Linked DNA regions of Homo sapiens: region 1 is linked to region 2. Evidence: fine-mapped expression QTL. A gene starts in region 2. The other region holds a variant in brackets. All regions are shown on one strand. Distances are between the middles of the regions.

Evidence for each region. PIP is the estimated chance that this variant, and not a neighbour inherited with it, causes the effect.
Region 1: its variant is fine-mapped to the expression of ALDOB in subcutaneous fat (TwinsUK, PIP 0.95).

The regions. Positions count from the first base shown.
Region 1 is chr9:101,451,897-101,469,697 of GRCh38, forward strand. It overlaps LOC105376184 (a long non-coding RNA gene), which reads left to right. Exons shown (of 4, transcript XR_001746862.2): 3 at 3,482-3,560; 4 at 7,045-7,193. It overlaps TMEM246-AS1 (TMEM246 antisense RNA 1), which reads left to right and starts at 16,543. Exons shown (of 3, transcript NR_121576.1): 1 at 16,543-16,712. RefSeq lists enhancers at 9,326-9,842, 9,843-10,359, 10,747-10,891 and a cis regulatory region at 10,814-10,824. The variant T/A (reference allele first, on the strand shown) is at 4,997.
Region 2 is chr9:101,430,420-101,444,940 of GRCh38, forward strand. It overlaps ALDOB (aldolase, fructose-bisphosphate B), which reads right to left and starts at 5,355. Exons shown (of 9, transcript NM_000035.4): 1 at 5,290-5,355; 2 at 357-478. The coding sequence starts at 468. LOC105376184 (a long non-coding RNA gene) reads left to right here and starts at 11,724. Exons shown (of 4, transcript XR_001746862.2): 1 at 11,724-12,438; 2 at 12,661-12,787.

The DNA.
Region 1 (17,801 bases), 23 kb after region 2:
GTGGGGCGCTGCTGAAAACATACCTGAAAATGTGGAAATGACTTTGGAACTGGGTAACAGGCAGAGATTGGAACACTTTGGAGGGCGCAGAAAAGACAAGAAAATGTGGGAAAGTGTGGAACTCCCTAGAGACTTGTCGAATGGCTTTGACAAAAATGCTGGTAATGATATGGACAATGAAATCCAGGCTAAGGTGGTCTCAGATGGACATGAAGAACTTTTTGAGAACTGGAGCAAAGGTGACTCTTGTTATGTTTTAGCAAAGTGACTAGCAGCATTTTTCCCCTGCCCTAGAGATTCATGGAACTTTGAACTTGAGAGAGATGATTTAGGGTATCTGGCAGAAGAAATTTATAAGCAGCAAAGCATGCAAGAGGTGACTAGGGTAATGTTAAAGGCATTCGGTTTTAAAAGGGAAACAGGGCATAGAGGTTCAGAAAATTTGCAGCCTGATAATGTGATAGAAAAGAAAATCCCATTTTCTGAGGAGAAATTCAAGCCAGCTGCAGAAATTTGCATAAGTAACAAGGAGCCAAATGTTAATCACCAAGACAAAGGGGAAATGTCTCAAGGGCATGTCAGAGGTCTTCACGGCAGCCCCTCCCATCACAGGTCGGGAGGCCTAGGAAGAAAAGTTGGTTTCATTGGCTGGGTCCAGGTCCCCCCTGCCCTGTGCAGCCTAGGGACTTGGTACCCTGCATTCTAGCCACTCCATCCATGGCTAAAAGGGGACAATGTACAGCTTGGGCTGTTGCCTCAGACTTTGGAAGCCACAAGCCTTGGCAGTTTCCATGTGGTGTTGAGCCTGCAGGTGCATAGAAGTGAAGAATTGGGGTTTGGGAACCTCTGCCTAGATTTCAAAAGATGTATAGAAATGCCTGGATGCCCAGGCAGAAGTTTGTGGCAGGGGTGGGGCCCTCATGGAGAACCTCTGCTAGGGCAGTGCAGAAGGGAAATGTGGGGTCAGAGTCCCCATACAGAGTCCCTACTGGACAGCTCAAGTGGAGCTGTGAGAAAGGGCCACCATCCTCCAGACCCCATAATGGTAGATCCACTGACAGCTTGCACAGTGCGCCTGGAAAAACTGCAGACATTCAACATCAGCCAATGAAGGCAGCCAGGAGGGAGGCTGTACCCTGCAAAGCTACAGGGGCAGAGTTGCCCAAGACCATGGGAACTCATCTCTTACATTAGTTTGACCCAGATGTGAGACATGAAGTCAAAGGAGATCATTTTGGAGCTTTAAGATTTGACTGACCTGCTGGATTTCGGACTTGCATGGGGCCTGTAGCCCCAATGTTTTGGCCAGTTTGGAATGGCTGTATGTACCCAATGCCTGTATCCCCATTGTATCTAGGAAGTAACTAACTTGCTTTTGATTTTACAGGCTCATAGGCAGAAGAGATTTGCCTTGTTTCAGATGAGACTTTGAACTATGGACTTTTGAGTTAATGCTGAAGTGAGTTAAGACTTTGGAGGACTGTTGGGAAGGCATGATTGGTTTTGAAATGTGAGGACATGAGACTTGGGAGGGGTCAGGGTGGAATGATATGGTTTGGCTGCATCCCCACCCAAATCTCATCTTGAATTTCCATGTGTTGTGGGAGGGACCTGTTAGGAGGTAATTGAATCATGGGGGCAAGTCTTTCGCATGCTGTTCTTGTGACAGTGAATAAGTCTCACAAGATCTGATAGTTTAAAAAGGGGAATTTCTCTGCACAAGTTCTTTCTTCTCTTGTCTGCTGCCATGTGAGACATCCTTTTACCTTCTGCCATAATTGTGAGGCCTCCCCAGCCATGTAGAAATATAAGTCCAATAAACCTCTTTCTTCTGTAAATTGCCCAGTTTGGGGTATGTCTTTATCAGCAGTGTGAAAATGGACTAATACACACACACACACTCACACACACATATATACACACACACACATACAGTTTATGTCACTATTATACCTCATTGTAAATGAATAACTAGTCTTCTGGATCTATGTTTTTATCTTATGACCCTGGTTAAGATGATTCACTCTGAGAAATGTATCTGTTCTGAGCCTATAAATAAAATCCAGATATGATGCTGCAGGGCTGTAGTTCAAACCATATGTCATGAGAAATTTACCCTGTGAGGCCTGTAGTCTTGTCCTTTTGATCCCTGGATAAACCCAGACACTACCCCCATAGTTGAAAAAATGCCACTAAATTGCATTATATGTAGGGTTTTGCATTCTGCTTTTTTGTGTTCCATTACATCTTGAGCATTTTCCTATGACATAATCATAGAAAAACCATATCTGAGAATGTAATTTTTAATAGGTCTATAATATTCTAAGATATATATATATACATATATATATGCCTTTATTTATTTGACTGGTAGTGTGACAAGTCCCCCACCAGGATACTTAAGGGTATATGTCTGCTGCCTGAACCCTGAAGACTGGGCAGTGACTCACAGTCATGATGCCCTGCAGAGAACTAAACAAGTGTCCCTGAAAACCCAAATATCCCGGAGAGTATCTGAGAACCTACCAAGAAAAACAGTCTCATTGCTCAAACACAGCAGGCAAAGAGCCAGAAATTAGCTTAAAAGCAGTTTAGAGATGGGAGGTGGTGCGGATCTCGAGAGCTGTCCCGCCACCATCCAGGAGTGCCCTGTGCATAAGTCCTAATAAACTCATCTACTCGTTAAGCTGGACTCGTTCAAGTCATTCTTTGGTCTCTTCATTCCTTCTCAGTTTGGAGGGAACATTAAAGTTCCAAGTTTTTCTTGTAACAAACCAACTTCTGTTATTGGAAGTCTGCCTATTTCTAATTGTTTGCTGTTATTATACATAAAGATGCAATGAATAACCTTATAGGTAAAGCTTTTTATACACCTCTGCTTTTTTCATTCATAAACTTCTAGGACCAGAAATATTAGATCAAATTGAATTAATGCTGTGGCCAACTGCAAATTGTTCCCCAATATCCATTTTCCCCTTCTAAAGTAGTAGAGTTTTAGCTGGGTCTATAGCTACGTCGTTAATGATATTTCTATATAGCCAGCCTGGCAGCTAGATGTGCCTGTGTGACAGGTCTGGCTAGTGGGATGTGAGTGTAATGAAATGATGTGGGCCCATTAAAGAATTATGCTTTGCCAGGCATGGTGGCTCATGCCTGTAATTCCAGCACTTTGGGAGGCTGAGGCGGGAGGATCACGAGGTCAGGAGTTCAAGACCAGCCTGACCAACACGGTGAAACCCCATCTCTAGTAAAAATACAAAAATTAGCCTGGTGTGATGGTGCACACCTGTAATCCCAGCTACTCAGGAGGCTCAGGCAAGAGAATCGCTTGAACACAGGAGGCGAGTTTGCAGTGAGCAGAGATCGCGCCACTACACTCCAGCCTGGGTGACAGAGTGAGACTCTGTCTCGAAAAACAAAAACAAACAAACAAACAAAAAGAATTATGCTCAATTCCCTGTCATTGTTGTTTTTTCCCCAGCTCTTTACTGGTGAGAAGATAGCAAAAGCTGAAGCAGACACAGAATCCACAAGTGGAAAATACAGCAGTGCCATTAAAGGTAATAAAAGATAAAGTTTATCTTTCTTCCAAGCTCTTTATTTTAATTTCTTATAGGATTTTTGTTACTTTTTAATGTTGTTTTAAGTAAAGAAGACTAAAAGTTTAAATCAGTATAAATTTTCATTTTTATATTGTGCCACACCCATTTTAAATGCAAATATAAGAGCACTTAACTCGTGTCGAATCACAAAAATTACAATTTGTATTTTGTGGTTCATACATGGATATGTAGTTCATTCTTACCAGAAGAGTAGGAACAATGCACACACAAAAAATTCAACTGTTTTTATTTCACTGCTTGATAAAATATGTTCTATCAACATGCTTTGCCTTCTACCTACTGATGAGTAAGGAAGGACTGACAGGAAAAGGAACTACAGGTTACCCTATTGTTCCCTTTCTGTGTTATTTTCAAAGTAAGTTCCTGGCTGATACAGGGAAGTAGCACAAGTAATAAAGGATGTGGTGGGGTTCCTTTGTTGTTCATGTTTCTAACAATGCCATTGCTTTCTTTCTGGAACAGAAGCAAGTCTAGTTTGAATGGAATGCTTGGCCTTTTGGGATCTGTCAGTACTCTCTCCCAGACCCCTGTTAGTCATAGACATAACACACTTAACTTGTACTCACTTGGAGTCTCCCCAAACTCCCATGCATCGTGGGTCTACTGGGATTCTGTGGTCAGAGAGCATTGCCGTTACTACATTCAAACATGGTGGCATGACATGATATACCTACTGTGAATGACAGGTGTCATACAAAGGAAGGACAGATGCACCTACTGTGTATTCCTCTGTTTATGTGCATGCTTCATTGTCCCATTGGATTTGACTTACAAAATACAAATTCAAAGATGAAATTATGAAGAATTTCAAGATGGCAGCAGCAGAGCATTAGGCTACACATTGGGCCCTTCTGATTGTGGGGCTCTGTGTGACTGCACAAGACAAACCCTCATAAAGCCAGCTCTGGGTGGCGGAGCCCTGGACTGCCTGCCTACTGGATGTTAAATGAGATTGAAATAAATTTTGACCTAGTTTAAGCTGTTGTATTTTGAGGTCCCTTTTATACACTTTGCATCCTGACTTATGAAAACACTTTTAGTTCTCAAAACGTACTGCCAATTGCATAACAAAGAGACTATGTCCCTATGTTTAGTTAACACCCCCATGAGCAGTATATGACCACAAATGTTTCCCTCTGCTCTTGCTATTGTCTCTATTTTGATATTTCAACAGCATGCCCAATTCAAAATGCCCCAAACCAAACTCATCTCTCCTCCAATATCAAACACAGACACAATATCAAACACAGCAACTAATATTTATTTAGCTTTTAACATGTACCAAGCGTTTTGCAGGCTTATTTCATTTATTAGGTATCATCATTCATTGTGGCCATTTTCCAGATGAGGAAATGGAAGCTTATGTAACTTAC[T/A]GAAGGTAATACTGAGCTGAGATATGATTTCAGTATTTATGGCTCCAAAGCCTATGAGCATACCACTTGTCTCTCCTTTTCTATGATGGCAAAATAATTCCTAAAACAATGGTGGTGTGATTGGGAAAAGAAATGTTTTTCTTTACATCTTGCAGCAAATCAATGTCTACAATAAATTCAGAATTCTAGTATCCTGTCAGATCACTCTGTTCCCATCATTTCTACCATTGCCAACACACCCTGAAAACTAGTGTATTCACCTGGGAGAGTTTGCTCAGGGAAGCGAGGGTTTTTAAAAATCCCCCTAGTGACCTCTTGTGGCTGATGGACACCCTGCTGAGACCCTGCCTCTGGAATCTACCTGGCTTGCTGCTTCATGTTCACCCCTCCCCGGGCTACAGAAAAAGGGCTCCAAGGAAATCAGAGTTAGGAAATGGGTCGTCCCTGGTTTCAAACAAAGGGCATCATTCCAATATGTGTCAAAAATAAGCTCAGAAAATTTGTAAGAGAGATGGGTTTTCTGTTTCCTGGACTTGCCTTTCATATCTTTTTTCTTTCTTTCTTTCTTGCATCCTCTCTCATTTTTCTTAATTTAGGTGAGGAGAAAATGTTGTAATAACATGTAAATCAGATTAGATAAATAATGATGCTGTAACAAGCCTGGTGGCATAATAGTATATACGAAGGTGTTTACTGAAGTAGTGATTTTAACAGAAAATTTATCTATCAATCTATCTATCTATCTGAAGGAGATTTTAAGTGATTGTATTACCTTTATACCGTGAAATACTACAAAGCCATTAAAATGTATATATGAATACACACTACAGACATACAGACATACACACACATACAGGTGAGGAAAAGGGTGCAGGTAAAGAAACTAAGTTACAAAACAACTTGCATGTTATCCCTTTTTTGTAACACTGGATGTATGCTTCAATGTAAAGAGAAGATAAATTCACCAAAATATTAACTATGGTGATCATCTCAGAGTGGTGGAATTACAGAATTTTTTTTGAGACTGAGTCTTGCTCTATCGCCCAGGCTGGAATGCAGTGGCATGATCTCGGCTCACTGCAACCTCCGTCTCCCAGGTTCAAGCAATTCTCCTGCCTCAGCCTCCTGAGTAGCTGGGATTACAGGCGCGCACTACCACGCCCGGCTAATTTTTGTATGTTTTAGTAGAGACAGGGTTTCACGATGTTGGCTGGGCTGGTCTCAAATTCCTGACCTCAAGTGATCTGCCCGCCTTGGCCTCCTAAATTGCTGCAATTACAGGCATGAGCCACTGCGCCTGGCCAAGGAATTACAGATTTTTAAAAAATTATTTACAGTTTTCTGTATTGCAGTGGTTCTCAACTTAGTACATTAACAACCTATGAAAAATCTGAATGCTCAGCCCACTCTAGACAAATTAAGTCAGAACTACTGGAAGTGAACCCAGGTTCTAGTAATTTTTTAAATTACCCAGATGATTCAATGTGCAATCAAGCTTGAGAATGAGTATATTGTTTGAATGCTTTACAATCAGTGATCATGTTATAAAGCAGAAAGAAGGGAGAGCCAGAAGAAGTTATCTTCATTTTGCTAATTTATGTGCAGTGTGCATGTGTGTATACTGTGTATGCAGTGTGCATGTGTGGCGGTTGCAGACAAACTAAGGCTAAAGCTGGTAAAAATCCAAAGGAACACAGTAAAGTCACCTAGTTGATCATGAAATCTGGTCAGAAAAACCTGGCTTTGTTTCTTTGTTCTAATACTTCCTGGCTATGTGACCTTAAGCAGCTCACTTCACCTGTTTGAATGTCCATTTTCTTTTCTAGTAAGAGTAAAAGGGAAATTCTATTCCCATAGAATTGTAGGATTCAGTGTCATATTGCATGAACAAGGGCTATGTAAGTTGCTAGTTATAATATGTGGTGGAGTAAAGAAGTAGAAAAGAAAGCAGGAGAAATAACTGAGCACTGAAAGACAAAATATTAACATTCCAGGAATGTTAATATTTTTTGTTTCTCCTGAATGCTTTATTTCCCTAACAAACATAGTTGCTGAGGGCCCGCTTTGCACCAGACACCATTTTAAGGGATAGAAGAGAAAACCTAATGACAGTCTGATTGCCGTCAAGAGGCTCACATGTGAAAGGGAATGAGGAGCTGCAACAAATAGCACAATGCGGTAAGTACTGTAAAGACGTGTGCCCAAGGCAGTAAGAGGCGCCAGTGCCTCTTTCAGAGAAGGGGAGGCAAGACTTGTGAAGCCTACAGAGAGCTAAGATCAGGAAATACTGGCTACATGCTTTGTTCTCTAGGGGGAGCTCAAGGCTTTCTCCTTTGATATCTGAATGGAATCAGTACTTCCAGTGAGAAGGGTGTATGTAGATAGATAAGTTGAACTGTGTTAGGATAAATGCTCCAATGCCACTTGATCTTGGAGTTCTTTCTTGTTAGGTATTTTCTATTGAATGGCGTCTTCCTTTGCTCCCGTGAAGCTGGTTCTATGGAAAGACATTGGGTTATCCCTCCCAGTTAAAAATGTTGCTCCCTCCACTTAGAAGACTAAGGAAGAACCAGAGTGAAGGAAGCCCCATGGGCAGGAAGAGGACTCATTTGGGCTCAAGACATTCAGTCCAACCTAGCTCACAAGGATGGATGAGATCATGATTCGGGACCATAACTTGTCACTTGTGCACATACTCTAAACGGTGGCGTTTTTCAAGGTATTGAAAGGAGGTGGCAGGATAGGATTAAGAAATTTGATCCAGACAGGCTTATCAAATTCACTACAACCAACAGATGGTTCTAGATTTTTTTTTTTTCATTAATGTTTCATGACTATGTGCTCTCGATTTGAAGTTTCAAGGTCCTCTTGAAGTTTTTTTTGTTTGTTTTTTTAGACAGGGTCTTGCTCTGTCACCCAGTGCAGTGGTGTGATCATCATGGCTCAATGCAGCCTCTTACTCCTGGGCTCAAGTGATCCTCCCACTTCAGCCTCCCAAAGCATTGGGATTACAAGCATGAGCCACACACACCTGGCTCAGAGTCCTCTTGAATCTGGCAAAAACTTGATTTGGAATTTTCTAAAATTTCTCTTATTTGTTGTAGCAACTGTATTTCATGGGAAGATATTTCTCTGATAGATCGATGCTCTTCTTTTTTATCTCTTTGTATCACCTATAAATGCTCCCATTTGCACACTCTTAAAGAAGTAAGCTTAGGATAGTTTCTTTTTTTTTTTTTTTTAGACGGAGTCTCGCTCTGTCGCCCAGGCTGGAGTGCAGTGGCGGGATCTCGGCTCACTGCAAGCCCCGCCTCCCGGGTTCACGCCATTCTCCTGCCTCAGCCTCCCAAGTAGCTGGGACTACAGGCGCCCGCCACTACGCCCGGCTAATTTTTTGTATTTTTAGTAGAGACGGGGTTTCACCGTTTTAGCCGGGATGGTCTCGATCTCCTGACCTCGTGATCCGCCCGCCTCGGCCTCCCAAAGTGCTGGGATTACAGGCGTGAGCCACCGCGCCCGGCCAGGATAGTTTCTGATTGCCTCACATGGAAAGTTAAAATGTAATCTCTCAGAGTTTTTGTGATGTCTAAATGAAGGCTATATAGACAATTTTGATTTTTAAGTTGTTTTTCTTTGTTACTTCGGGTATCAAACTGGGGATAGTGTGGAAACCACCAGTTCCTGAGGTAGTTGTGGCTAGGAAATTCACTTGTATACTAAAGAGCTTCATTTTTTTGTTTGCTGTGTAATTAGAAAGTAACTGGGTCTATGCCTTTATTCTTTGCATGGCAAGGTTTGCCTTGTTAGATACCAGACAAGGTAGCACCCCGGATATTTGCCAGGCATATTTATCCTTGTCAAAGGCACATTGGCAGTAAATGACACTGAAGGATCCTGCTTGGTATGACTTCGGTTATCAAGTAAACTGTTGCAGAGTTGTTGGGGGGATCCAGATATACCCCCATATCATCTCTTGCTTCACCTCATCTCTGACCCTAGCCCCTGAGTAAATAGGTGGGTTCTGCTGGGGTCCACTTCTTGGTTAGCTGTTCCTTCTTCTGACTGAGTTGTAATAGATAGGACTGGCCACTTTTTCAAACTAATCTCATCTGTATTGTATCTTGCAAAAATTCCCCTGTCTGTAGCATGTGACTGACCCTTTTCATTGATTTCTAGCACAGTATAGTGTTCTTCGTACTTTTATCTTTCGTGGCTGATAGAGGGAATCTAACCGTTTGCCGTAGAGGAGATTAGATAAGACTGCTGATGTCAATATTGTGCTTGGAAGATGTTTCTTCTGAATCTCAGTGGGGGGTTCAGAAACTTATCACCTCTCCAGTAGCTTCCCATCACACTGAGAATAAAATGCCAGCTCCTAACTGTGACCTAAAAGAGCTTCCTTCTCCCACTTCATCTCTGACCACTCCCTCTTTCTCTTTGTACCCCAGCCATACTGACCTTATTGCTCCTTAAACAGGCCAAGCTATGTCCTCCTCAGGAACTTATGCTACTCGCTGTGCTTTCTGCCTGGAATGCTACACTCCAGATTTTTACATAGTTCACTCATTCATATCATTCATATCCCTACCTAAATGTCATTTCAGAGAAGTCTTTATAACACCTTATCAGAAATAACCCACACAACTTCTACATCCTTAAGCAGCTTTGCTTTTCTTTATAGCACTTATCACAATCTGAAATGCTATTGTGTTTTTTGTTTTGGTTTTGTTTGAGATGGAGTCTCACTCTGTCGCCCAGGCTGGAGAGCAATGGCACGATCTCGGCTCACTGCAACCTCCACCTCCTGGGTTCAAGTGATTCTCGCGCCTCAGCCTCCTAAGCAGCTGGGATTACAGGTGCGCACCACCATGCCTGGCTAATTTTTGTACTTTTAGTAGAGACGGGGTTTCACCATGTTGGACAGGCTGGTCTCGAACTCCTGACCTTAGGTGATTCACCTGCCTCGGCCTTCCAAAGTGCTGGGATTATAGGCATGAGCCACCATGCCTATATGAGCCACAATATGAAACACCCATATTGTGTTTTATCTGTATACTTTTTAAACATTTGTTTTCTTGCTAGAATGTAAGCTCTATGGGGTCAGGGACTCTTGTCTGTCTTGTTTCTTACTCTGTCCCCAGACAGAGTCCCCAGACTCTAGAATAGTGCCAGGTGCCCAATAAGTTTTTGTTGAATGAATAAATAAATGAATGAAAGTTAGCTTAAATTCTTAAGAGTTAAATGGGATTTTGGCTATAACCTCACCATCTACAAAGCCTGGGAAAAGAAAAAAGAAAAAAACTAGTGCTGAATCCAATGTTTAGGGTTTTAGTGTATTGCTTCTTCTTTAAAGGAAGGAGATGGTGCCTGAGACTAGCCTGGGTGCTGAGACCACAACTCAGGCAATTTAAGTTTATGAAGGCCGATCCCACCCTACCCTTTCCAAAACTCTAGGACTACTTGCTGGAATGTGTATTCTAAAATCATACTTCTGAATATTTTTGAAATTGAAGTGCATCTTATAATAAGTATACTCATTTATTTTGCTTTTTTCCCCTAAAAAGCTGTTAAGGAAAGCTAGGGATATGGTGTGTCTTTTATAATTGAAGGCTTCTTCAGTTAAAAAAGACAGTATTTTACAAAATTCCTCATTTATAGAACCTTAGATTGATAATGTTACAGCTAGTAGGCATTAAAGATCCAGTGAATTTTAAAGCCTTTTCCATTTTTTTCCCCTCTTAAGCCTGGTCTTTTTGGAAAGAAATCTTTAGAGAAACTATAAACAAACCAGTGGATAAAAGCACAGTGGGGTGATAGGTGACTCAGCACGCTCACCCCTCCGCTATGCTGACCTACACTTTCAAGGGAGCTTCCGGGAGAGTAATTTGAAACTTAATGGAAAGATACAAGCCGGTTCCTTCATCTTTGGCTGGTGCAAAAACCAGTGTTAAAAGTCTTTTATTAAACAACAACTTTATGAGATATAATTGACATAATAAACTGCATATATGTAAATATAACATTTGGTAAGTTTCAACATGTGTATACACTCACGAAGCCATCACTGCTATCAAGACATTGAACATATTCATCATCCCGAAAAGTCTTCTTATGCACCTTTGTAAATTCTTCCTCCCTACCTCACCTCACCTCATCCCCATCTCCAGGCAACCCTTATTTGCTTCATGTCACTATAGTGATTAGTTTGCATTTTCTGCAATTTTACATGAATGACATCATACACACTTTTTTTAAATCTGGCTTCTTTCAATCAGCATAATTATTTTGAGATTTATCCATATTGCTGCACATATCAATAGTTTTTTTCTTTTCATTGCCGAGTAGTATTCCGTGGTATGGGTATTCTCAATCTGTTTGTCCATTTGCTGCAGATGGACATTTGAATGGTTTCCAGTTTTGGGCTATTACAAATGAAGCTCTATGAAGCTCTATGAATATTCCTGTATGAGTCTTAATATGGACACATGTTTTCTTTCATTGTTTTTGTGTAAATACCTAGAAGCCGAATGGCTGGATCTGATCATTGGTATGTGTTTAACTTTTCAAGCAACTCCCTACTTGTCTTTCAAAGTGGCTGTACTGTACAATAGTTTCAGTGGCTACATAACCTCACCAACACTCAGTATGTTCAGTTTCCTAAAAGTTTAGCCATTCTAATGAATGTGTGGTAGTATCTCATTGTGGTTTTAATTTTCATTTCCCTTATGACTAATAATGTTAAGCATCCTTTAATGTACTTATTTGCCATTGTTACTGAGCAAAAGAGGCTCCTTTCCCAATGTGCTAGAAGCCAATGCTATGATACTGGGTTTTTGAGAAAAGAAAAACTTTTTTTTTTTTTTTTTAAGACAGAGTTTCGCTCTTGTAGCCCAGTCTGGAGTGCAATGGCTCGATCTTGGCTCACTGCAACCTCCGCCTCCCGGGTTCAAGTGATTCTTCTGCCTCAGCCTCCCTAGTGGCTGGGATTACAGGCACCCACCACCACACCACAGCCAGCTAATTTTTTGTGTTTTTAGTAGAGATGGGGTTTCACGATGTTGGCCAGGCTGGTCTCAAACTCCCAGCCTCAGGTGATCTACCCGCCTCAGCCTCCCAAAGTACTGGGATAACAGGCGTGAGCCACCGTGCCCAGCTAAGAATAACTTTTGATTGCAGGTCGACCAACAAGGAGACAGGTGTCCAACTCAAATCTATCTCCTCATGCTGGCTATAAGGCAATACTTTTATGAAGGTTTAGGGGATGGATTCTGGGATTTACCCCTGATTGGTAGAGGGAAAGGGGAGGTCTGGAAAGTCCTCTGGCATGCAGTTATCTCTTCATGCTACCTCCTGGAATACATGTGCAAATTTGGGGGAAGTTAGTATGAAACATGCAGTGGAAATTCAGGCTGTGATGTCAGCAAGCTTGTTCTACACAGACTCCAGTTGGCCATAATGGTTCCAACCGATTTCAGCCAGTTGTTATCCTACAAGCAGAGAGAGTTTTCGTGTTTCAGCGAGTTGTTCCTTTTCTTATCTGCCATCCTGAAAACTGAAGAATTTCTGTGTCATATTTTTCTTTAATCATTTGCGACACTGTTCCACAATCTTCTCTGGTGGCGTGTTTGTAATCGCTACTTACGTTTTTTAATTGCCCTCATTTTTGTTTTTGTTTTTAAGATTCTGCAGTAATGACAATTTTTTGAAGCATTGTCTATGCTATTTGTCTATTCTAAAATTTTGTTGACAGAACTACTAAATAAATAGCATTGTTAATGGGAAACGAAGGAGAACTGTGTTAATCTAACAGAGAACTATCACAATAGGTTATTTATGGCACAGACAGAGGCTGTTTACACTTATTCAGGCTGGTAGAACTGACGGTGAATGGGTGAAAATGATGGCATATTATTGGGAGGCAATGGGAGATAGTGAAAGAAGCCAGAAAGGGGAATATTGATTTTTGCCCCATCCAAAGTCTCCCCTCCCACACTGCCTATATTATGCCAACCCTTCATAGTCTTTCCCCATCTCCCCAATTTTTTCATTATTATGGATTTTTTATTTTGTAGCAAATATGTTAAGGAGATGAAGACTAGCTCAGCAGCAGAATCTAGCTATTGGCTATTCATTGAGATAAGCTTGCCAAGAATTTTCAATAGTGGACCACGTGATCAGAAATCCATGTGTTGGCAAAATAAAGTTTATATTGATTTCAGTATTAGTGCATAGCAAGTTTTATGTTAAAAATAAGAAGAACTTTATACAAAAGTGCAGTTATAAACCTAGAGTTTGAACTTGTCCTCTAGGAAGCACGTAGTAGAGTGAGGACACTGACCTAGGTTGGGGACAAAACTGTCATTTTGTCATGGAGTAGAATGAATGTGATCCTGGGGAAAGGACTGAAGGGCTTGGGCAAAGGGGAAGTGAAGATTATATTCAAGATGAATAAGAAGAGCAGAAGCCAGCTCTCCTCCCGTTTCCACCTTGGTCTGGAGAGGAAGAGGCGTTTCTGCCACCCCCATCCCCTCTGTCTTCCTTACTTTTTAACTTCTTCCAGAGGGAGGAGGAATTACTCAAGTACTCAAAGCACAAGGCAATTACCAAACCACATTTCGCTAGAGGGCAGAGTCTCTAAGCTGATGTTCCCTCATTGGCAATTACAGTCCCCTTATTGCAGCACACTGGGAAAGGGCGTGGCCGTTCTCTGTCCTGTGCATATGTACTATGTGCATAAATTGTATTTGGTCTGTTCCAGATCTTTTCATCACCCAGGGTGGAAGTGAGGGAAACCTTCCTTAGGTTTCCAAACCTACATGGTATAATTTGATTTGGTTTAACAAATATCTCTGCCCTGGGAGAGAAATGGGCGCTTAGTTAATAAAAAGGTATTTTATTTTCTATTTGGTATTATTCTCATGTGCATATTCCTTAATTAGAAATCCCTGAGTGGTAGGATTTCATCTCCTAAACTGAACCCCTGACACTAACATAATTAATCTTAAACAAAATTTCTATCCAAAGGGAGCCAAAAAAAGAGGCAATCTTTTTCTAAGCTTGTATCTAAGCCAGAAGGACTACAACTAGGGTCAAGGTAACAGGACAAGTTCATAGGGTAGATAGTGAAACCAGGTTCCCTTCGTTGCATCATCTATGGAAAGAGGACCATCATTTATCCATTCACCCACTCATCAACCAATCCATCCTTTCATCCATTCAGTCGTTAACACATTTCTGAATTCCAGGCACTGGGCTAAGACTTCATAATACAGTAATAAACAAGTTGGTTATTGTTTGAAGGAGGATGGAAAAAAATGGGGAAAGAGGGTGTATGTAAATTTGTCATGAAATATATATATATATATATATATATATATATATATATATATATGAGTCAGAGAGAATGGCTCATGGCTCATACATATATTATATATTATATATATATAATGACTCATATATATAATGACACACACATACACATACACACACACACATGAGTCAGATAGAATGGGAAAGATGGCACAGCATTTTCTTCCACCCTTGACCTATGTTGGAGCCTACAACAGAGTGTACTCATGAGAAAGTTTTTGAGATTCTGGATGTAAGCTGTACTGATTGGAAGATCAAGTGACAAAACAAAGCAACAGTTAGAAAGAGGGTCATTGTTTCCACTTTCCCCCAGGACCAAGTACTGACCTGTAAAGTAGATATCACTAGTATTCACCAAAATCTGTTCTTCTCCCTTTTCATATACATGAACCTCTCTGCACTTTTTAGCCCTCTTGCAGTTAAAGTAGAGCCATATTGATTAGTTCCAGCATTTGCAGCCTGAAGCAAAGAGCTAGTGAGTAACCACCATCAAGTTATCAATTTAAACCTGCTTAGTTGACCAGGGAGGCTTCATGGAAAACAGCTGTCCTAAAGGGTTGCCCAGATCTCTGTTAGATTTTGTGTCAGCAAGAAATAAACTTTTATCATGGTAAGCCACTGAGAAGACACTGGGTCTTGCTGCACCAGTCTACCACAGCCTGGAGAACTGATATTTGGGGAAGCATTAAAAAATAGTACCCCTGGCATAGGCACTGGTGGTTTCAAAATAGCTACTATAAGTGGGGGTAAAAGAGAGGCCTTTCCAGTTACTTTGCAAGGCAGTGTGGAGCCAGAACAGGAAAGGAAAGATAAAATCGATGCTCTGTAATGACTGCAGCTAGCAGACTTCTTTGTGCATACATACATGTAAGGTAGCTTTTTGCAGACTCCCAGAAATATTTAGTAGGACTTTTGGGGCTTGAGAAAGAGTGTTATCAACAAAGGAAACTCTGCATTATTTAATCTTAACATGACTGCTTACATCCAAAGACTGGCGACACATGGTGTCTTTAGGTGCTAACTGAGCTGTGGGATCGATTTCATTAGGGAGAGGTCACAATTCTGTTTCTAGTTGGCAGGAATGATTTTAGTTCCTGTCTTCATCCTTATTCCTTTCTTGAAGAGTAAAGGGTCACACATTGCTCAAATCTCTAGAAATTTCAGGATCTCCTGGGATTCATGTCAGACCCCCCTATATCTTTTCTGGGATACTGTGTTTTTTTGGAGAAAATAATTTAATTTCATTATCATGGTTTTTCTTCTTGAAACTGAATACAGACAGGAAAATACTTTCTGATGCAGATGTATTAACATTTGCATGCCAAAAAGAGCTTCAGAAATTTACAGCATGGTTTATACTATACATCAAAATCCATATGACTACTTTCTAAAATTGTGAATTTATTTTCAAAAAAATAAAAAGCTCTTCATGGGCCCCAAATCATCAATTCAAGACAATTCCACAATAGGTTGAAAATAAGCACAAGCTTCCGTTGCTATCTGGTCAATCCCATGTCCAATCTGAATTTGATTATCTGTATTTCCTTGAAAGTAGCAACAATGATCTTATTGTTTCCATGATGTTTCATGTTCAGCTGTTCAGATGTCCTATCGTATGAGAAAGAAAATGCAATCTAATGGGCCGCCAGGAATCTAAGAAGCTATGCCTCTCAAAGCCCTTTGATATCTTCAAACAATTAATCTTGTAGCAGCTAGAATATATTTTCAGTAATGTGCCTAACTTAACTATATGACTATATTAAAATAAATCTCCATGTTACTTCAATTTCTAAATAAAATGGCATGAGCAGAAAGGATATTAAAAATCTTGATCACTTCCCCCAGCAACAGGGCAGTTGCTGTTCACATTTTACCCAAGAGCTATCTATGTGCCTCTTCTTCCTAGCCAACAAAAGCCCCATCTTGTTTAGATGGTGGGTAGGGAGCCAGTGAGATCATAGAAGATGGGCCCCTATCCAAGCCCCAAGAGAATTAATTGCAACTGGGCTTGTTCTGTTTTCCTTTGCCTGTGATTGGTCTAGGAGTGGGCATGTGGCCTATTTCTGGCCCTATGAAGCAAAAGGAGAGGTCTGCTGGGAGACTTCCTGAAACTGCTCTTCCTGGAAGGAGGGAAACAAACAAAACAACAACAAAAGAACTTTACAAGAGAAAGCTTTTTATCCCAGCCCCTTCCTACTCCCATTGAATGCAGCTCTGTGAGGACACGATATTTGAAGCTGCAGTAGCTGAGGTGGCAAAAGATGGCAGAACAGAAGAGCAGACAGAATCTGGGTCCTAGATGACTTCATTGCACTGCTGCAACTGCCTTCTCCAGACCTCTTGCCAGGTGAGAAAATTAAATGTCATCATTGCTTAAGCCCCTGGGAGACTAGATTCTGTTACTTGCCACTGAATGCATCCTAATGCTGTAACTGTCTCTTGCACTGAAACCAACTTGCAAAATTTACAGCACAAACTCTGCCCATGTATGAAGAGAATGTAAAAAAGCATTGCAAACATCTCTTTTGGGAAAATAAATGGATAACACCATTTTTTCTTTTCATTTGAGTTGTCCTATCTTTGGCAAGTGAAAGCTGAAAAGCAGAATTTTCACATATAAATCAAATTTCCCCATTTCCCTCCTGGCAAGGGGTAAGAAACTCTTAGCCCATACATGCTTTCTAATTAGTTAAGAATTGGATTTCAAGCCCTACTCTTATTGTTCGGTTTATTCTGCTTAGTTCATTCAGATAAGAGAATCCTTGAAGGTAAGGTTTAGGGTAGTCAAACAGTTATGAACAATGGTTGTGAATTATGACATATTCCAGCATTTTGGAGCAGCAGCTTAGTCAGCTATCCTCAGAGCCAGTCTGAGGACTCTGACCAATACCAGTGTGGGTTGTCTAAACAAATTAATTTTTAAAAGTAAGGAATGTGTCTTTTCAGGCCTGTGGTTCCCTATGGAAACACTGACAAGAACAGGTGGAAGAAATATGTGGTCTTCGGTTAAAAACTCTTCAGGGTTCAAAGAAGGGCACTCTCACATCATGTGATGGGTGAGCTCTAGTCATTCTGTGAGAGGAACTCCAGGAGACCAGATCCAACTCGCAATCAGCTATAGTGAAGTTATGATATGAGAAGCACCAACTTGGCACAAGACTTGGGAAAGGCAATGAGGCAGCAGGCAAGCTTTAAGGGATGACACTTACCTTGAGGGAGCAAGGACAAGTTGTGACCTTCCCAGTCCTCTCTCCATTTGCAGATCAGCAAGCTTCTGTCAGCAAGGAGGGGTGGACAATGAAACTGGGTTCAGCTTGATTTGTTTTTTGAGACAGGTATGGCAAGGGGCTGCCAACAAGGTAAGTCATCTTTGGACAAGCCAAGTGCTTTGGGAAACAATTGTTTCTGAAAATAAGTGTTTGTGTCAAACATTCTC
Region 2 (14,521 bases):
ACTTTCCTGCCCTTCTTGACTCAACTGAATTTAAACTGACTTTAAACTGACTTCTCACTAGTAGCAGATGCCTGTGTATCTGACCTTATGCTAGTTACTAAGTTTCTGGCCTTACTACAAGGCTGGATTCAAATGACCCCTGGCTTAAAATGAAGGGCTTGAGCCTCTTTCCTTGGCTTTCAGGAATGTGCCTACTACTTACAGGACTCAAAAGCTCTACGCTTACTGAGTCTTCTGCTCCCACTCCCGTGTACATAAACCTTTACTTCCATAAAGAATATGATTATCAAGTTGTTTTTGCTAAGTGTAGAAAAAATAATATGTTGTTATATGATGAGACTGCTTTTTACACTCACCTACAGATTCATCTGCAGCCAGGATCCCCTTTCCATTGGCAACAATGCTCTGGGCAATTTCTGAGAGCTCCTTCTTCTGCTCCTGGGTGAGGGCTGGAAATCGGTGGGCCATGGTGACAGGTCTGGAAAAGAGTGTGCGAGAGTTGTGCACAGAACCATGGGTGGCTCAGATGGATGCATGACCAAGACAGTTGGGGGTGCAGACATGCTGTGCAGACCTCTGTGACACCTCTGACCCATTTCCACAGGTGGATAAGCAAATGAGGTTTGTTTTTCCCCCATCACTTATTAGTTGCAATTAGCTGCAATGAATGAAGGTGGGTTACTGAATGTTCATGGTGATCCTAGACAGAATGCTTTCCAGCAGGCCTTTGGAATCACTAATCAAAACACTGAACCAGCTAATTAGTGACCCACTAAAATATGACTAATAGAGGGGACTGCAGTAATGGACTGTCTCTCTATTCTGTGGACTCCTGGTGCCACTGGATTTCCTTAATGGCTTGAGGCCAGGACAATGTCGCTCTTGACCTCTGCAGTTATCCTCTGCTTTGCTCTGTTAGTCTGTAGTTCCAACAGATTATTCTCCAGGAAACAAACTTGAAAGGAGAAATCTATACATAGTCTTAAAGCTAACTTCCATTTGGCCTCGGGCTACAGAGGGTTGGGTGCAAGTTTCCTTTTCCTTATATTCAACCCTCTATGAAACCACTTGGGGCAGACCAGAGAGGATGTTTCCTAAGTGCCTCTGGGCTTGGGTTTCTCACTGCCTATGAGGATGCTAAAGTTGTATGGCAGTCCCTGCTCCAGCTTCACTGCTTTAGCAAGGGGAGACTCTGGCTTGAAGACCCCCTAACCAAGCAGCCTCCACAGTGGTTGTGCTCTGAAGGAGATCGTTGCCCCTGTTCGGATGCCACTTTGGGTTAATCTTGAAAATGCAAGCTCAAAGAGCCCTCACTTTGGGTGTTACAAAGAGTGCTTTTTGCATAGGTTGGGCTACCAAAGAAAAAATGGTAATGAAGATTATCTTGGGTAGCTTCCTATCCAATGCCAGGGTCTCCTCCTTTCTCTAATCTTCTCTCCCTCCAATACACTCAGCACAGGGTGGATGCTCCATGTCTACATATTACTTCCCGGAAGCCCAGGGACACCTCAGGTCTCATCTGATCCATTGGCAATGAGGTAATTATAGCAGGTATTATCTTCATTAATTAATGAGCAAGCTAAGACGTAGAGAAGCTAACTGACTTGTTCAAGGTCCCAGCTAGGATGAAGCAGAGTCCCTATCCAGTCCTGTCCTCATGACAAATATATTTCTCCACATTTTCTGCATCCCTTCAGGGTAGGCTGTCAGTACTCTGTCCCTTGATATAAAAAGTCAGTAGCCACTGAGCTAATTCATGAGAAGGTATAACTGATGATCTCATTGTTGCCTCTCCATTTCAACAGAGGTTCTTGTCTTACCCCAAAAGAATGAAACTGCAATGCTGTTACTGGGGTAATAGGACAAGCTAGTGGGCAACAATTTCTAGAGAAGATGACCTTCTAAGGCCCATTATGTCCCAGCCACCAGCAGAGCATGTTTGCCCTGTTTATATATTAGCTGTAATATTGGAGTCAAAGACTTTTAGCTTTGGACCTGGCCTCCAGATCATCATGCTGAAAAAAGCCAACCTGGGTGTGATCTTCAGAGCAAGGTGCAAACTTTCTCTCTCAGTTTAGGCATTTGTACAAAGGAGTTGACAATTACCAAGAAAGAAAGATATTTTCTTAATGAAACAAAAGGGAAAATCAGCCCAATAATAATAATAACAACAAGTGATCATGTATTGTCAAGCACTCTGCTAATGGCTTTACATGCACTATATAATTTTTCTTGAAAATAATCCCAGAAGGTGGTTGGGCTCTTTTCCCCTCCCATTTAATAGATTAGGAAAGAATATAAGAGAGTGTAAATTATTTATCCAAGGACAAATAGCTAATAAGGCATCAAGTTGAGATAAGGGGCAGTACTCCTTTCCATTCAAGGGAAAGAGTGAGCTTGATGAAAAAAATGGCCTTTGGATGACTCCTAATGTCCTTGATGACACCCCAGAGTACCTTACGCTGTGGGTGATTACACCATGGACATTACTTATTCATAAACATCTGACACATTTATGTAGAGGTTTGCTGCTAGCAGATCAGACAGACCTAGTTTTAAGAACCAGCTCTGCCTAATCTAGCTGGAACCTCAGGCAAGTCAGGCAGCTTCCTGAGTCTCAGTTTACTATGGATTAAATGGTGATAATAACTGTTCTGGTTGTCTCTTTGCCAGGTAACTCAAATGCCATCTATGAGCACCCTGCTCATTGTAGTTGCTCAAAATATATTTGTTAAATTGCATGATAAACATGAAGATTCTTTACAAAGCACTATAAAATGCAATGTATTACTAATTCTCTTTTTTTAATGAAAAAAATCACCTAAGTGACCTCCATTTTTCTGTTTACTGCCTATTACTAAACTATTTTCTTCAATCTGGGTATGCTGACTCAACCAGAATAACAGTGAAAATGATAATTCAAACTAATACTGTTTACAGGGAGTTAAACTTCTACAGTGGGATTAAAGGTCTGTACCACGTTAGCACAAATGTCACCTCTCTGTTAATCATAAAACAGGGTCACAGGCCAATGTTCACCACAAGGAGACAGGAGGACAACCTGGGATGGGTAATGACAAAGAACGATTTCCGTACTCCTAAGCCTCTGCTCTCTCAGATCTCAAGCCAACTTTTTTCAGTGTGATGGAAGTTGTTCACATTATATTATTAAATGAAAAACAAGTTTCAGAGAAGTATGCAATATATACTGTCCTCCTATTTTTTAATTAAAAAATGATATATACCCATACTGTTTTTGTGTCTATATAAACAAAGAGTAACAACTCTGGAGTTACCTCTGAAGAATGGGGTAGGGTGGAGAGATTCTCACATTTCTTTTCTTTTTCTTTCTTTCTTTTTTATTTTCTGAGACAGAGTCTTGCTCTGTTGCCTAGCCTGGAGTGCACTGGCACAATCATGACTCACTGAAGCCTCGTCCTCCTGGGCTCAAGTGATCTTCCCACCTCAGACACCAAGCAGCTGAAACTACAGGCGCCTGCCACCATGCCCAGCTATTTTTTTTTTTATTTTTGGTATAAACAAAGTCTTGCTATGTTGCCCAGGCTTGTCTTGAACTCCTGAGTTCACGCGATCCTCCCACCTTGGCCTCGCAAAGTGCTGGGATTACAGGCATGAGCCACTGCACCCGGCCACATTTCATTTTATACATTCTTTATCACGCACTTTATTACATATGTGTAACAAGTAATATGTATATAAATCTGGAGGAAAGTTGTATTAACAACAGAAGGTAACCACAGAAAAACAGAGCTACAAATGACCTCAGAGATACCTGCGTCAACCCTGTCACTTTAGAGATGAGGAAACTAAAGCCAGAGAGACTATGTCTGATGTGCCTTCTAAGTTGTGATGTTCTAGGATTGCAAGTTACATCCTATTGGCTTATGACTTAGAATTCTATTTCTAATCCTTCAGCAAAATAGCAGGTAGAATCCTATGGTATGGTTCTTTCTGCCTTCCTTGAAGATGTTCTGTGAAAACATAATTATTTGTAACATGGATATTTAATTCCTGGAGAAATAGAAGGCAGCAGAAAGTTCATTTGCTTCTCTATGTACAAGACAAATGGATTTTTAAGGCAAATATGAGGAGGCTTATTTATTGATAGCCCATGATTTCTAGGCACTGCATGCAGCACTTTTGTACATGATGCTTAAAGCTGCCAATAGCTTCATTATCCACCCCAATGTCCCAGTGACAAGTGCAGTGGGATGATCTAGGGCAGTCCTAGGACAGCCTGATTTCCAGTGCCCTTTAACACACGCGGAGCAGCCCAGAACGAGTCCTGAATGGTGCTCTTTCCTCTAAACTTGGAATGAAGCCAAAGGACCTCTTAGATATTCAACATTTCCCCATTCCCTGCCCCAGTATCTCTGGCTCTAACCTGGGCCTGGGTGCTACCCAGATGTGCCTTAGCTAAAGTGATGAATAGCAGGGTAGCAGAGTTCAAGCTCTGGTGCATCCAAATTGTCTAATGGAGCCCTAGGTAACTATTTAAAGAGAAGTTATTTTTTAAAAAGGCAACATATTCTCACAATGCCTATTTTTCAGATAGTAGAGCAAATGTATCAAAATACACAACCTTTTGATTCCTACTATCTTAAGCTGTAGGGTCTTCACAGTGTCTGGGGCCAGCAGGAAATGTTCTAGAAAGTGTCAAACATGAAGGGTTTGGAAATTCATAATCAAATGATGACTATGCTCTGTGAAGTTTCCAACCCTGTTGCATTTCCTCATTTGAGCAGTGGGTGAAGGCGAAGGGCAAAATACTCCAAGGGTTTGTTTCTGTGACAAAGAAACTTCAGTGTCGGTACCAGTAGGTGTGGGAAGAGAATGTAGAAAATGACATAAGGCAGTAGATATGTAAATAAATCACTAAAATAAGTAGTTGTTATGAAAAGAGAGTTGAGAGTTGAAATGAACAGGAATCTCAAAAACTGATTAGAACCTAACGATAGGAGTGTTCAAGTTGTTTTTCCTAGATCAGAGACTCACAAGGGCCTCATTCAGGTAACACAAGTAACTGGCAATCAATCTTGGGCATTTTGCCACCTCTCAAAAAGTCAGGAAAGGTGTGAATGAGCATTTATACTTAGAGAGAGGAAAACAAGCATTTCCCTCCAAGCAGAGCCATCATGTTTTCAGCCACCATCAAGTTTTTCCCGAAAACAAAGGCAAACCAATCTTCCCTTCTATAAGCTTAGTAGTATTATTAACCCCTTATTCACTGGTGCTGTCCAGGTATACAAAGGAAGCTTTTTTACTTACAGTTTGGGAGAGAAGAGTCCTCCTAGATATCAAAAGCTGTGGGTGAGGCAGCAGCTGCCAAATAAGACAGATCTTTGGTAGCACACAATTTTTATAGACTTCTCATCATGTTTTTTTTTTCCAATATTTGCCCTCCCCTTTCTACCTTGACCTAGTAGGGAGGTGTTTATTCAACACCTCTGATTGGCTCATAAACAACCAGTCCTTAAAATCATGCCCATATACTCCTTATGCTCATAGAATGTTAAAGCTGCAAGGAATGTCTTTAGACCGTGGAGTTCCTAATCCAGACCCTCCATTTCACAGATGAGGAAACTAAGGCAAGGAAGATAAGGAGGTTCCCTTAAGTCATACAGCTAGTCAATGATGGAGCTCTAGGGTCCATTAAATGATACTAGGAAGAATGTTAGTGTAGCTGTAACACTTACAAAACACATGAACTTGGTGACGGGTTTTTGGTTTTGTTTTTTACTTGTCTGAGCCGTTATTTTCTTCTCTGTAAAGTGGGATCTCAATTTCACAGGAGCATTAAGTGAGTTGTATAGTGTCTGTACGCAGTAGGCATTCAAGAATTATTATTTCCAAATTAGGTAATCAATGCTATATTTTCATTATTTATCTTCAGTATATCATTAGTAGTCAATTCCAACAATTTATTCTATAATTTATAGTTAAATTTAAATAATCTTTCAATAAAAGAAATTGATTCTGAATCCTTGAATTTCCCATGTGTGAATTTTGTCCAAATTGGAAATAAAATTCAAAACATTCTGTTTTTAAAAATCATTGTCTCTCCCATCTTCTCCAGTCCTCCAAAACCTAGCTGGGCTTTCTGATGTATTTAATGCCAGAAATCATTGTTTTGTATTCCCATTCTCTTTTAACCTTTGTACTTTTGTCTTCAAATTTGGTTAAAAACTAGAATTAAAGTGATTGAACTAAGCCATCAACACCCCTAAATATGGTACTGTCTGGGTATGGGTTCATTCTGCAGGGCTTTTTCCTAAGTATGAAACCCAAATTTAATTCCAGAAAAGGTAAATAAAAATATTATATGCTTCCAGAGGCAAATGATGAATGAGGCAAATAAATGAGGGAAATCTAAAAGTGATGGAATGACCGTAATTACAAAAAAGGGTAAATTCTCATGAACATGTTCCTCTGGAATAATTCATAAAATGGAAAACAAAACTAAGATGCTTGATTGTGCAGAGTGTAACACCAGAATTTATGGATGAAAAGGTGAAATGTCAACAAAATGAAGGAAAAAATAAACGGAACTAGGTGATCTAAAAAGAGTTTTGGTTTAGTTTTGGTTGTTTTTCCTAGATCAGAGACTCACAAGGGCCTCATTCAGGTAACACAAGTAACTGGCAATCAATCTTGGGCATTTTGCCACCTCTCAAAAAGCCAGGAAAGGTGTGAATGAGCATTTATACTTAGAGAGAGGAAAACAAGCATTTCCCTCCAAGCAGAGCCATCATGTTTTCAGCCACCATCAAGTTTTTCCTGAAAACAAAGGCTTCTGAGAACAGTAAGTATTCATCACTGAATGTGAATATTGAAGGAAATTGAAGTATTTGAAACACAATATTGAGGCTCATTTGGCTAGGGAAGTTCCCACCAAGCCCTGTCCTGAGGATAGTAGAGGGATAGACCAGGGAAAGGTCCTATCAGCTCCCTTGACTCCACTTAGTATCTGATGGCACATTTCCTGGTTTCCCCATCTTCAACTGGGCTCATTGAAGCACCTGCTACCATATTTGTCAGACCAATGTGACCAGCTTTGGGGCTATGTGAGGTTTCATCCTCTATGATTTTTGGTAAAGGAGAATGGAGGAACAAGAGGTGGATGGTGATGAAAGAATAGAGAGTGGGTGTAATGAAAGTTGTTAGGAGTCAGGGCTGGGGTAGTCAGAACCATAGCTAAAACATTCTACCTGCTGAGAGATGCTACTAGTACTAATTATTCTTGTTATACAACAATAATAGCTATCCTTTTTTTGAGAGTCTATGATGTACCTGGTTCTTTTCATAAATTATCTCCAATATCAGCGACTCTCTGAAGAAACGCTTATTACCCCCATTTTATGCATAACAAAACTCTGGTTCAGAGAGGGCAAGTAACTTGTCTAGAGTCACAGTACAGGTAGCTGGAGAGTTTGTCTCATTCCAAGACAGTGATCTAAAGCAGAGCTGCTTACATTTTGGTAACTGCAGACTCATAAATTAGCTCTTTCCCTATTGCCTTCTCAGCAGTTTATAACCTTGGACATTAAACTTTCATTAATCAGGGAGGAATGACTTGCGTCAGCAGACGTAGGTGTCCTTGGTGAGCTGGGCATGGCTCCATGTGAACAACAGCCTGGCTAGGAATGTCAGAACAGCATGAGTACTCCTGCCCTGAGTGCTGCCACTTGCTGCTGTTCTTGTAGCATCAGCATTTGCCCACCTCTGGGGCTTGATGTGCAACTGAAACTCAAAGTTCAGGAAAACAAAGCTAAGGGCTTACTGGACCTTAGAGAAACAGCAACTCTTGACCAACATACACTGCTTGCAGGGTTTTTGTTTTTATTTTTATTTTTGTTAAGTCTCCTAACACAATACAATGTTCAAAATTGAGTATTATATGTGGAAACAGCATTGGACTTGGAGGCTGTGAAACACTGGGAAGTTCTTCAACCTTAGTCCACAGTTTCCCCATCTGTAAAATGAACTAGGAATGCCTCTATCAGAAATGTATTATGAAGCATGAATGAAATAATATATGAGTGGCACTTTGTACAGAATAGGTTTTCATTAAATAGCTAGATCTGAATGCATAACTGGTTTAGAGGCCTTTGATTGTAGGATCTTAAAATAGGCAATGTAACAACAATACTATTCATGATCGTTACAGTCAATACTTCTAACAACAGCCTCGCTTATTCTCTACTCCCTGCCCAACTCTAGATATTTCTTCTGGTTTGAATGTGATATCTATATAAGTCAATCCACAGGCCATGAGATAAATGTGTTATTAATGCATAACATGAGGTCTGAGTCATAAGCAAACTTCTACATGCAAATAAATCTCACATATTATAGAGTTACACTTACTGTAGAATTAGCAATATTATAGAGAAAGAACTTTCATAAAAAGAGACCACATTACACAATGCAACTGGAAGAATCACGATTGGCATTTTAAAATATATTTTCCAAACTGTGGTACAGATATTTCCTTATCATATTGCAATCTGCTTTGGTGGTTGGAATAGTTTCAGGACCCCAAAATCAGTAGTTATTACTTTGGTCTAGAGATAGAGCTATGTTTTCTCAGCATGGCTCTCAAAAGTGTTTTGCTGTTATGTGTATAAGGCATTTTGTTAGCTATGGAGACTTTTTAGAGGATACGAGGTGAGTAAGACTGGCCTATTCTCAAGAAACCTGCATTCTAAAAGGAAGAGAAGATTGAAGTTGAGAATCAAATAAAATCAAACCAAATACAAGAATGTACATAAAAACACCAAGAGATTGTTGTTGTTGTTGCTGCTGTTGTCACTGCAGCATTTATGGATGACTGTGTGAAGTAACATTAAAGAAAAGTCCTATGAAAAGCCCAAATATTCGAGATTTTTTACAAGGCCAAGTCAATTGATTCAATCTGTCAGACTGTAAGACCTAGGGGGGTAGGGGGTAGTAATGTCTTACCAATGTTTCCTCATTATCCAGCACTATGCCTAGACACCAATCAACTTTTGTGGAATAAATGAATCAATAGATATATGAGTATCAATATAGGTGTATATTAGTATCAATCTCAGAAAAGTCTAGAGTAACTGGCTTATAATTCTCATCCCAGAGAACTTTGAAATAAATAATAAGTAGAGTATGAACATTCCTTTCTTCTAAAACTATACTAGGTTCTGAAAACTCTTCTATCATTGCTCATTTGGAATTTCACAGGAATCCAGGCTGTAGTGCCTTGCAATGGTACACAAGAACCACAGCCTCCCTACTTTCAGTAAATTCTGGTACAACACACATAACACAAAATTTACCATCTTAGCCATTTTTAAGTGTTCAGATTAGTAGCATTAAGTGTATTCACATTGTTGGGCAACCAATCTTCAGAACTCTTTTCATCTTGCAAAATTAAAACTCTATACCATTAAACAACAACTCTCCATTCATCCTCCCCACCACCCCCTAGCAACCACCATTCTGCTTTCTGTCTCTATCAATTTGACTACACTATGTACCTCACGTAAGTGAAATCATAGAGTTGTTGTCTTTTTGTGTCTGGCTTATTTCACTTGGTACAATGTCCTCAAGTTTCATCCACATTGTAGTGTGTGTCAGAATTTCCTTCCTTTTTAAAGCTGAATAATATTCCATTGTATGCTGCATTTTGTTTATCCATTCGTCTGTTGATAGACACTCGGGTTGCTTCTACCTTTTGGCTATTGTGAATAATGCTGCTATGAACATGGGTGTACAAATATCTTTATTTAGACTCTGCTTTCAATTCTTTTACGGTTTTATTGAGATAGAATTCACATAGATACAATTCACCCACTTAAAATGTACACTCCAATGGTTTTTTTAGTCTGTTCATAGAATCAGAGTATTAGATGTCAGTTTGTGAGAGAGATGTGGTAGGTTTTTAAGATGCTCCAAATCTGACGGTATAAATAGTTTTAAAGCACCACCATGAAGTCCAGGAGCAACAGCCACTGGGGTGCAGCAGATATGAGAATGAAAGAGTCATGGGTCCCATTTCATTTCCTTGTGGTAATTTTTTTAGATGCTCTTCATCACTAAGAAATCTGAACTCTGTGTATTCTAGGAACACTAGAGTGCCTTGTATATTCAAGTATCCAGGGTAAGTAAATTCAATAGTATCCAAATTGTGGGGCTTAAAAATACCCCTTTGACTAAAGAGTAAAGCTGATGCTTGAAGTATGTTGAAGAACTGGAGGATTTCCTTGTCTGAGGAAATATGGACATGCAGTTAGGATGTTGCAGAGGCAGAGTGAACAGGAAATAATTTCACACTCAGTGACGAGTATTTAGCTGACAGGAAAGAGTTACACAGTGGTCTGAAGTGTCCACCAACCCCCATTTCTCCATATGTCTTTGAATTGGGTTGTTAACTGCCTTGTCAGTGTTTTCTCTTTGTCTTTTGCTCAATCATCTCAAAGTTCAGTTTTTCCCTATCTAATCAGGTTGTTAATTACCTAGGTCATTTATGACCCCCAGCACAGTATTTATTTCACTCTTCCTTATAACAACTTTTCAGAAACTCTTTCATAAAACTTTCATAAAACTCTTTGGCATTAAGGTGAGATGGCCTTTTGCTAGGGTGGAAAAATCTCTAGATAAGGAGGCATGAGGTATGTGGGTGCTGAGTCCAGTTCTGCTGTTGACTGGCCATGGAGCTGAACAAAGTCAGCTTTTCCCAGCCTCCCTTCTCTAACGTGTAAAGTGGCCTGATAATACCACTACTGCCTAATTTTACTGTGTTGTTGCGGTGATCAAACGATATCATGTAAATTAGTGCTCTGAAAACTACGAAGACCTACATAAGTGTAAAATATTATAAAGCGAGCATTACACAGCTGATGCCTGTGTGTGCACATACACATGCACACACACACACACACACACGCATGCACACACAAGTTTGAGAATCAGAAAACAAGGTTTTGGCCCTAGCTTTGCCTTGATGACATTGCCCACTGGAGCGTATTCCCATTAGTTGAGCACGTACTATTAGGGAGACTTTTCTGGGCTCTAGAATGTGTCATTTAATCTCCACTACCTCAGCAGCATAGGCATTGTTTTGGAAAGGGGGGAGATGATCTGGTATCTTCCCCAAGGTCCCACCATTAGTAAGCAGCAGTGTAGGGACTGAAACACAGATCTATGACTCTTAAGCCAACCAGGGCTTTGAATTCTTATCTATACAGCAAAATGGGGGTCTCTTCTAGCTGTGCTATTCTGTGGTCTTTGCTGCCCAAATTGCGTGTTTTTGAGATATATGGTTACTCTAGAAAAAAGAAAATAATTTTAAACAGTAATATAATAAATATAGATTAGAAGATAAAATGTTTTCAGGCCAGGCACTGTGGCTCATGCCTGTAATCCCAGCCGTTTGGGAGGCCAAGGCGGGTGGATCAGCCTGGCCAATATAATGAAAACGCATCTCTACTAAAAATGCAAAAATTAGTTGAGTGTGTTGGTGGGCGCCTGTATTTCCAGTTACTCAGGGGGCTGAGGCAGGAGAATCGCTTGAACCCGGGAGGCGGAGGTTGCAGTGAGCAGAGATAGGCGACTGCACTCCAGCTTGGGTGACAGAGCGAGACTGCATCTCAAAAAGAAGAAGGAGAAGAAGAAGAAGAAGGAGAAGGAGAAGGAGAAGGAGAAGGAGAGGAAGAGGAAGAGGAAGAGGAAGAGGAAGAAGAAGAAGAAGAAGAAGAAGAAGAAGAAGAAGAAGAAGAAGAAGAAGAAGAAGAAGAAATGTTTTCTGTTGAGAAGTGCTGTTGGTATGGATTATTTATTGACTCTTACCTAGAAATCTTCAGAATGCTGGTATGTATGGAAGAAACAGGTAGTTCTAATATCCTGCCTCTTTTCCTCCAGCTATTTGGATTTCCTGCATCTCACTTCAGCACCCTTTAGGAATGAAGAATGCCAGCCTGACCAAATCCAGAACTACACTTTCCTGGAAGCCTGGCTAAAAGTCCCAGACTGGCAAGGGGCAAGCAGCCAGCAGCGTGTGCGGGTGGCAGGCCTGTCAGTGGCCACCTCAGTGCCACCTGCTCTCACACAAAGTGAAGAATGGAGCCACTCCGCTTCCCAGGTTATTAATCCAGTCACCTACAAATTCAACTCTCTGCCCTTCAGAAGGTTCAGCTATAAACCTTCTTGGAGTGCCAATATAACTTAGTTATTAAGAATGTGGACTTTGAAGTCAGATCAAACTTGTTTCAAATTCCAGCCCAGAGCTTTTGGGCTGGGTTACTTTGGAAAAGTTCTCTAACCTTTTTGAACTTCAGTTTCCTCCTCAGCAAAAATAATAATAATAATAAAACGTACCCTACAACATTGTTGGAGGATTGGGTTGAATAATGAATCAAAGTGTTAAGCATATACCTAGCAAAGGTAAGTACCACATAAATAACACGTCCTGTGATGATCATTGTCACTATGCCTTTCTCCTTTCCACATTCTCCACATTCTTCTCTCCCTCTGTCACCAAAGAGAAGTCCTTTCAAAATTTTTGCTCCCACAGCATTCAATCTCATCTCATTATCTCCTGTGTCCTTCATCTGGAATCTTCCATCCCACTTCCACCCTCAAAAGATTTCTCCATTTATTATGTAGAAAATGAAGCTGGAGCCTGAGTTCATCTCAGAGGTTGTATACTCGCATCCAAGAAGAGTACCCCTGTAGAAGGCAGTGGGGAGCTACAAATAAAGAAAGACTTCATCCCCTGTTACATAAACCAAAGGTGGGTATAACTTACATTCAGAAAAGATGGAGAGAAGTAGAAGCACGTTTGAGGAAAATAGAGAAAATGGCAATATTATTTGTGGAAAGTGTAAAAAGGAATGAAGGAGGGAAGATAAATAAAGAGATAAGGCCTTGCACCCATGTTTCCTGAGTTAGAAGCAGATCGGGCAGCTGGAAGACCCAACCTTCCAGGCAGGCAGACAGCTGACCTCGTTAGCACCCCTCCGCCATGTCATTCAAGGTGTGTGGCTGGCCTGCACCAGAGCACGCCTGTCCTCCGTGGCACAGCTGACTCTTAGGCGTGCTAGATCCCCCACTGGGGTGCCAGATGGAGGTGTAAATAAGAGGCTGGAACAAGTTATCTCTGTGGCAGGGAGCCCAGGAAAATTCGTCCAATTGCTGGCACTCCAGCAGGAGGCTGCATGCTCAGTGATCATGACCAGGCAGCAGATGTCCTGGCTTCCTTGGAGGGGAGAAAAGGAGGGTATTCATGCTCTTGCAATTTATTTCCTACCCAGACCCAGGGCGGGCCTGCTCTTTTTGCCACTCCGTTTAATGGCTTTTCTTTGGGTCATTTGCCAAGTGAGAACAGAGACCCTCTGATCCGAAGGAGGAATGGAAAAGCTGTCAGTTAAAAAAAATGGGAAGAATAGAAAGGCAGTCATTTATTAAAAAATAATTATGTTTTTTACCATATGACCCAGGAATTCCACTCCTGGGTATCTACCCAAGAGAAATAAAAACATACATCCACGTAAACACACACCCTAGTATGCACAGCAGTATCATCCATAACAGCCAAAAAGAGGAAACAAACCAAATGTTCATCAACTGGCAAATGGATAAACAAAATGTGATATATCCATACCATGGAACATTATTGAGTCATAAAGAGGAATGACGTACTGATACAAGATACGACATGGATGAACCTTGAACACATTATGCTAAGTGAGAAAAGCCAGGCACAAAAACTCACATATTGTATGATTCCATTTATATACAATATCTAAAATATACAAATCCACAGAGACAGAAAATATATTAGTATTGCCTAGATCAGTTAGGGCAGAGGGAATGGGGAGTAACTGCTAATGTACATTGGATTTCTTTTGGAATGACAACATTTTTCTAAAATTAGATAGTGAAGCTGCTTGCTCGACTTTGTAAATCTGCTGAAGACCATTGGATTTTGTGCTTTAAATAGATGAATTTTATGATATGCAAATTATGTCTCATACAGCTGTTAAGTAAATGAATAAGTAAAAATATAATAATTATATTCTGGGATGTTGTGGTCAGAGAAAACAAGCAGCTACCTCTTGCTCACAGTGTGTGAAGGTAAATTTGCCAGTCATTTCTCCAGTGCCCTCTCCCCTCCTCCAACCCCAAAGGCATAGTCTCTGACATCTTCTTCCTCAAGATGCATGTACTCCCTTATCCATCCTGGACCTATGAGGGAAGCTGCCTATAGAGATTCTGCAAAAGTGAGGGTCCCTTTTGACTCAGGTCTAATAGGGAAGAGAAAGCAGGATCACACATAGGTATGTATAGCTCAGATCTCAGCTGGGGTCTCCTTGTCTTTTTAGATACAGAAAGGGCTGGCTCAAATCTTCATTCTACAACTTCCAGAAAGTTCAATGCTTTCCCCTAATTTGGGGGGAACTTCCCAAGGGAGTTATAATATTAATGTCACCTTGGCTCAGAGCTTCTCATTTCACTAACTCAGTTC